Homo sapiens: one gene and its partner. The protein of the gene in region 2 purifies or fractionates together with the protein of the main gene of each other region. This does not show direct contact. Each region holds a gene or a part of one and is shown on either strand. Other genes may lie near its edges.

What was found. The genes of interacting proteins can lie anywhere in the genome.
Region 1: the proteins of GABBR2 (region 2) and GNG2 fractionate together in Homo sapiens (co-fractionation; one study listed by IntAct). This does not show direct contact.

Annotation. Positions count from the first base shown.
Region 1 is NC_000014.9:51,867,112-51,870,611, reverse strand, and holds part of GNG2 (guanine nucleotide-binding protein G(I)/G(S)/G(O) subunit gamma-2 precursor), read right to left. Parts: intron 1-3,500. UniProt on the Homo sapiens protein: Guanine nucleotide-binding proteins (G proteins) are involved as a modulator or transducer in various transmembrane signaling systems.
Region 2 is NC_000009.12:98,299,526-98,303,435, forward strand, and holds part of GABBR2 (gamma-aminobutyric acid type B receptor subunit 2 precursor), read right to left. Parts: intron 3,899-3,910; coding exon 3,716-3,898; intron 1-3,715. UniProt on the Homo sapiens protein: Component of a heterodimeric G-protein coupled receptor for GABA, formed by GABBR1 and GABBR2. Within the heterodimeric GABA receptor, only GABBR1 seems to bind agonists, while GABBR2 mediates coupling to G proteins.

The DNA.
Region 1 (3,500 bases), on a different chromosome or scaffold from region 2:
AGAGAAAACAAGGTTTTCATTTAAGTCTGACAGATACTATACACAGAATGCTTGGCGTCTCTAGCTCATTACTTGGCCCAGGGTAGATTTTTATATAGACCAAATTGATTTAAATGACCAGTCAGGAAAATGCAATTTAATTATATATATATTTTACAATGCAGAAATGCAGGGCTGGTTGTCTAAATTAAATGCCATTCTTATTGCTTTATAGGACCTGATGTATTTCCTTCTGGAATATTTTGTTTAGAAGGTTATTCTTTACTTTGCCTAGCTTTCTCCAGTCTGTGTTTTTCGCCAGGATTCTTCCTCTGGCCTACCTAGATCATTGCTAACAACAAAAACAAGTTGTTTTTTTTTTCTTAATATTTTCTTTTAGGTTCAGGGGTACACGTGCAGGTTTGTTATATAGCCAAAAACAAGGCTTTTGTTCGTGTTTTTCTCAAAGGGAAATGCATGGAAACTTTGTTCAATTCAATGTTGTATGATATTGCTCAGTTATTTAACCTTTTTAGTCTGGATATCTTCACTTATAAAATGGGAATAATAATAGTGGCCAACTCTATTGACTGCCTACCCACTAACCCCCTCTTCCTTGCTAATAGAACCAGACCCTTTTGCTGGGGTCTGATGACTTTGTTCTTCAGCGAGCCTGGGCTGCTCCATGGCCTCGGGAGGAAACTCTTAAATTAGCCAATCACAGTGGTTCTGTCTGCCTACTTACTCATACATATAGCATGTGAGTTGTGAGTGGAAATTCCACTGGACACAGATTTTCTGTGACTTTAAAAAGAGCCGCGGCAGGGCAAGGTAGCTCAGGCCTGTAATCCCAGCACTTTGGGAGGCCGAGGTGGGTGGATCTATTGTGCTCAGGAGTTCAAGACCAGTCTGGGTAACACGGTGAAACCCCATCTTTACTCAAATACAAAAATTAGCTGGGCATGGTGGCACACACTTGTGGTCCCAGCTACTCAGGAGGCTGAGGTGAAAGGATCAGCCTCCCACCTGCAGGCTGAGGCTGCAATGAGTCATGATCATGCCACTGCACCCCAGCCTGGGTGACAGACCGAGGCCCTGTTTCAACAAACCAGAAAGAGCCACATAAGAAATCTGCTGCACCTTGATATGCCTCTACGTATTGAAATATGCCTATAATTCCAAAATTGTAGACGCCATGTCCACACAGTGAGGGGAAATCAACCTGCTGAAGGTGTCACAGTGGGAGGAAGGGAAGAATCCAGGTTGCTAAGGACATTATCCAGCTACCACATAAGTAACTCTGAAGCTACCCTCCTATCAGAGGTCTTGCGATCAATTTCCTATTGCTTACGCCATTTTAGTAGGACATTCCTTTATCAGCAGCCAGAAATATCCTGATAGAAAAATATTGTCCTTATTTCGTAGGGTTATTTTTAAAACTAGCTAAAGTATCCAGCACAAACTGAATGCCTAACAAATGTTCATTCTCAACTTAATTCTTGACATATGTTAGTCTTCACTTATTCAAATTAGTTAGTGCTTTCTTTACTCTGTGTGGTCTGAATGACTCCTCTAGGAGGCTTTCCCTGGTTCCCCAAAACAGGAATAAGGGCAGAAGTCATTGCTTTCTCCTCTTTATTCAAATAAAGATAATATCAAGTACCTAAGGTTATTTTAAACAATAAGAATGGTATTTAATTCAGACAAGTAGTGTAGTGCTGATTGCAGTGTAGAGAAAAAAATGTAATCAAACAGAGTAGTCTTCCTGACTGTGTAAATCAATTTGAACTAAATAAAATCCAACCCAGATCAAGTAATCAACACAGCAGCCAAGTGTTCTGCATTTGGAGTCTACAAAGTTTATCGAAAAGCTGCTTTCTGTAGGGAAAAAGACATAGTTTGTAGATTACAGAACATGTATGTGAAGAAGGACACATTTCCTCTGAAATCTCACCTCATTCTTATTTCAGAAAGGCACCTGCACCTTCTGCTCAAAACCTTCTCCACAAGCCCCCTTCGCCCCAATATCTTTACATGGCTGAATCCTCAGCATCATTTTGGTCTCAACTCAAATGTCACCTCTTCAGAGAGGCCTTCAGGGATTACTCAACAAAGTAATCTCCCAATTACCCCTGCCAGCATAGGCACAGTCCCACCATTCACCCTGTTTCTACTTCAATCCATCAAAGCACTCACTACTACTTGACATTTTCTTTTATTGTAAGTCATTTCTGTCAATGGTTCCAATCCTGGTTGATTCTGATTTAATTACTCTGAGGTGAGGTTGGGACATGATATTTTTTTCAAACTACCCTCTCAGTGATTTCTAATGTGCAGTTAGACCTAAAAACCACTGGTTTATGTGTTTACTGAGTCTCTCTCAATACTCGAATGTAAGTTTCAAGAAAACAACCGACCAGTTTTGTTCATCCTAGTCTCCCTGGCATCTTGACGAGCACATGGCACATTGCAGACATTAGGACTTTGAACACATCGATTAATTCTATTGTAATTATATTTCTGTATTTGTCTGTTTTCCCCATGAGTTTGTGAGCTCTTAGAGGACAAGTACTATGTCTAGCCCACTCTGCATCAAAAAATGAGTCACTCAAGAATGTTCATTAAATAAATGAATGATAAACAAACTGCATTGTGTGGTATAAGGAAGACAAAGATGAAACCAGATGTGACCGCTGTCCTCAAAGAGCTTGGAGTGTGGTCAAAAAAAAAAATTATGCAGATTGCTGTTATACACACTAGAATGAGCTAGATGCTGTGATGAAAGAACAAAAGATTTCAGAGGAGCATTGTTTTTTTATTGGGGAAAAAAGGGAAGAAACCAAGGGAGGCTTCATGAAAGAGGCAGCATTTGAACTGAGCTTTACAGGACAGATGGAATTTGGTTATTCAGAGAAGTAAGACTGTGGGGACAAAGTGTGGAAGGGGAAGCAGGAACTAACTTATCCTAGGCGGAGAGAAAAGAACTCAAAAAACAAGTCAGCCCAGCTGGAGGTTAGGAGGGCCTCAACTAAGACACCGGCTATAAACATGGAAAAGAGTCAGTATCAAGATATTTTCCCAATCACAATTGCAAGGAGCCATGCAACTTCCTGCAACTAGAGGTGCTTGGTGAGGAAGACAGTGAAGTTGAATTGTCATAACTGAGGTAATGATAAATGGGGTGTCATTAACAATTATGAAATCAGGTGAGGAGCTGGTTTTGAGGAGTGGGAAAGGTGATGGTGAGCACAGTTTTGGACATGTGAGTTTCATTTTCTGTGGGTTGGATGTTCTGGTGAATTTGCAGGCAGCTTGCTGTACAAGCTGAGAGAGGAGGTGAATGATTAGGATGCTTCATCAGATTTGGGACTGACCCACACAGCAACAGTGACTAAAATCACAGGACAGAATTTGATTAGGGAGAGGGAGAAATTAAATGGCCAAAGACTCGTATCTTGAGAACACTCATATTTGGGGAGCAGGAACTGAAGTTAGTGAAGTTGGAGCCCGCAGAGAGGTAG
Region 2 (3,910 bases):
TCTTTGTTCAAGGAGAAGCTATGATAAGAGGGACCTGGGCTTTGCAATTATGTGTTCAGTGTAGGCTTGGGCCTTGATGAAGCAGACAAGCAAGCTCAGGGAGGAAGGGCAGGGAGAGCATACGAGCTAAGGCTCTGGACAGGACTTATGCAAACCCAAGGCTGCCCCTTACTTGCAGTGATGTTCTTCTGGCTTGTGAGAACCCAGTCTCAATTTCTTTTTCTGTAGAATGGGGTAATAATAGTACCTACCTCAGGGGGAGGTTGTGCAGATCAAACAAGATAATACATGGAAAGTTTAGCCCAGTGTCTGAAACATAATAAGGGCAACTTGCTACTATAATAATATTACTATTATTACAGGGTCTCACTCTGTCACCCAGATTAGAGTGCAGTGGTGCAATTATAGCTTACTGCAACCTTGATCTCCTAGGCTCAAGCAATCCTCCTGTCTCACCCTCCTGAGTAGCTGGGACTACACGTGCATGCTACCATGTCTGGCTAATTTTTTTTTTTTTTGGTAGAGATGGGGTCTCTCTATGTTCCTCAGGCTGGTCTTGAACTCCTGAGCTCAAGCAATCCTCCCACTTTGGCCTCCCAAAGTGCTGGGTTTACAGGCATGAACTACTGTGCCTGGCCTTATAATTACTATTACTGATACTTAATAGGACCCACAGTGGAGGACAGACATGCAGGGCTCGCGAGCTCTGAGCCTCACACTATCATGGAGACTCTGACCTGCAGGGTCTCACTCAGAGGAGTTAATCAGGATGGGTCCCAGTCATCCCCACGTTTTTATTTTTAGAGACAAGTCTTCTCTATGTTGCCCAGGCCGGTCTTGAACTCCTGGGCTCGAGCGATCCTCCCACTTTGTCCTCCCAAAGCGTTGGGATTACAGGTGTGAGCCACAGCACCTGGCCCATTCCCAGGTTATACAAAAATCAGGTGCAAGTCCTGGGGGCAATTCAGCCCCAGAGAAGCCTGGGCAATATGAGTGTTGGTAGTTGTTGGGGGTGGTAGTCGGGATGGGTGTTGAACATCTGTGATATTACCATATCTGTATAATAGAATGGCTTTCATCCATGATTCCTGGCTGCTATATCTCTTGTAAGAGTCTTTTGTTATAATGTTGGGGCATTTTAGGCCTCAGGAGCGGGCCTCATGAAACAGAATCACTCTCTCTGACCTTCTCCTGTCCTTTCTCACCTGCTCAAGGCAGGACTGTAATCTGATGTAGGTCAAAAGACCTTTATCACAGAGAGAAAGTCTTGCCCCATACCCTGGAGGAAGGAATGCTACAGAGAGGCCAAGAAAATTCTGAGCAGAAAGGCCTTGCTGGGTTTAGATCATGCATTTTTGTCCAATCACATTTCTACACAGTTGTCAGTCATGCCTCGTGTAATGAAGCCTCCATAAAAACTCAAAAGAACAGGGTATGAAGATCTTCTGGGTAGCTGAACACGTGAAGGTTCCTGGAGCATGGGGCCCAGGGAGGCAGGGAAGCTCCACACCCCTTCACCCGTCCTCGCTCTGTGCATCTCTTCATTCATGTCCTTGGTAATAAGCTGGTAAATGTGTTTCCCTGGGTTCCGTGAGCCCCTCTAGCAAATTAATTCAACCCAAAGCAGGATCCTGGGAGTCCCAACTTGAAGCTGGCTGGTCAGAAGTTCCAGAGGCCTGACTTATGACTGGTATCTGAGGGTAGGGTGGGGGTCAGGGGGAGCCTTGGGGACTGAGCCCTCAACCTGTGGGATCTGAAGCTATCTCTAGATATGTAGCATTGGATTTGAACTGGAGGCACCCAGCGGGTGCCTGCTGCTCGTTGGTGGGGAAAACCCCACACACATTTGGTCACAGAAGTCTTCTGCGTTGACTGTTGTGTTGGTGCAAGAGCACAGGAAAAACATGGTTAGAGGATTTTTCCAAACAGCATCCTGCTGTAGTATAAGGGAGGAGACCTGATAAACTATCAGAGGCTGTTCTGATGTCAGGAACACAGCCATGAAATTGTTTAACACGTTTTCATGTGGAGGAGGAGGGAAAGAGATACTCTTTTCTATGTGACTTAAATGGCAGGAGTAGGATCAAAGGGTGGGGACAACAGGAGGCCAGATTGTGATTCATTTCCGGGAAAAATAACACAACATTTAAGAGTTTTAAATAGTGGCCTGGGTTTCCTAATGTGACTGAACTCTTCATTGCTGAAGTGTGCAAGTAGAAGTGAAATGCAGTGACATGGTCGTACTCATCAGGAGAGGTCTGATATTGAAACAGAGCCTGTAATGGGCTTTGGGGGACAGAAACCCTTCTTAGTTTGCTCTGGCAGCTGATGGTGGGTTACCTCATCCTAAAGCAGTCATCTTTAGGTGCACAGACAACTGTATGGTGGCTCTCTGTGGCAGAATTCTGTGAGCCCCCCAAAGGGCGGCCAGATCTAGCAAATAAAAATCCAGAATGTCCAGTCAAATTTGAGTTTCAGATAATGGGTTCTTTTTTAGTATAAGTATATTCAAGTATTACTTGGGCTAAACTTTTACTGAAAATATGATTGGTTGTTGATCTGAAGTCTGAATTTAACTGGGCATCCCATATCTAATCTGGCAACCCTATGTCTCACTTCTTCCTTGCAGCTGTCCAGCTAGAGACGACGTTTCCCAGCCTCTCCTCTCACTAGGTGTGCTCATGTCAGTTTTTGTTGATGTGACTAGGGCAGAACCAAAATATGCACAATTTTTGGTGTTACTGCTTAAAAGGCAATCCCTCATGTGGACTTTCTATCTCTTCCCCTCCTGACACTGTGAACAGGACATGCTGTCCACCCAGCTCTCCCGCTATGAATGAAGAGAACACCCTGGAGAGTGGGGAAAACCAGAGGGCAGGAACCAAGCCCAGCAATGACCTTGGGGAGCAGAGCTGCCCCAACCGGGCCCTCTCTTTTCACGGCCATTAGGTAAAAGGGAAATAAACATATTTTCTCTGGGCCACTTTATTTTGGGGCCTTGTTTAGCCAGCATTGTAACCAATGTACTTTCCTTGGTCCCTTTCCTGTCCCCCTCCCTAATCAGAATTCCTCTATTAAAGCAACACACAGCCTGCAGAGCACGGGTTCAGGCATACCTCCAACCCAAAGGGAGGGGTAGAGGAGGGGAGGTAATTTGTTTTCCCTTCCCTGGTCTACAAGCCAAGCCTGGCTTGGGCACAAGGCAATCTGGCTATGGTCTCTCTGGAATATTCAAGAACCAGTTGAGAACCCTCAGGACAAAGGCGAGGTCTGCTGCAGCACTCTCTCTTGAAAAGTTTCTTTTCACTTTCTCTTCTCTTGTACATCACATAGATGTGGTGGTTGCTGGGTTGTGCTGGGAGAGTGAAAAACTGAGAGGGAGAGAGACACAGATAAAGAGACACTGACGTAGGAAGCTATGATAATCCAGAAGCTCACAAATCTCCCTGAGTTCCTTTCTGTCTGGGGATGGCTTGAATCAGGTGTTGCTGGCCTCCAAGAGCCTGGGTGAGGTGGGCAATAAGCTCATGTTGGATTCTGACAAATGCCTCTGTGTGGTTTATGTCACCCCTGGCTCTCGCAGCTGCAACTGCAGCTGATGAGACTGCACGGTCATGCTGCAGGGATGGTCTAGAGGAGCCTGAGAGTCCCCGCACAGGGTTAGAGGGGCTTCAGTGGCAGACAGGGCCCAGCTACCAGATGCAGAGGGAGGTACCTCTGTGATCTTCATTCGCAGGCGATGGTTTTCTGACTGTAGGCCCTCCAGGCGGGATGTGCTGGCTTGGTTCACACTGGTGACCGAGGTGGACGTTTTAGAATCTTCTTTCTTCTGATTCTGAGTGAACTGGAATCGCCTGTTCTGCGTTGCTGCATCTGGGTTTGTTCTCAGGGTGATGAGCTGAAAGGACAA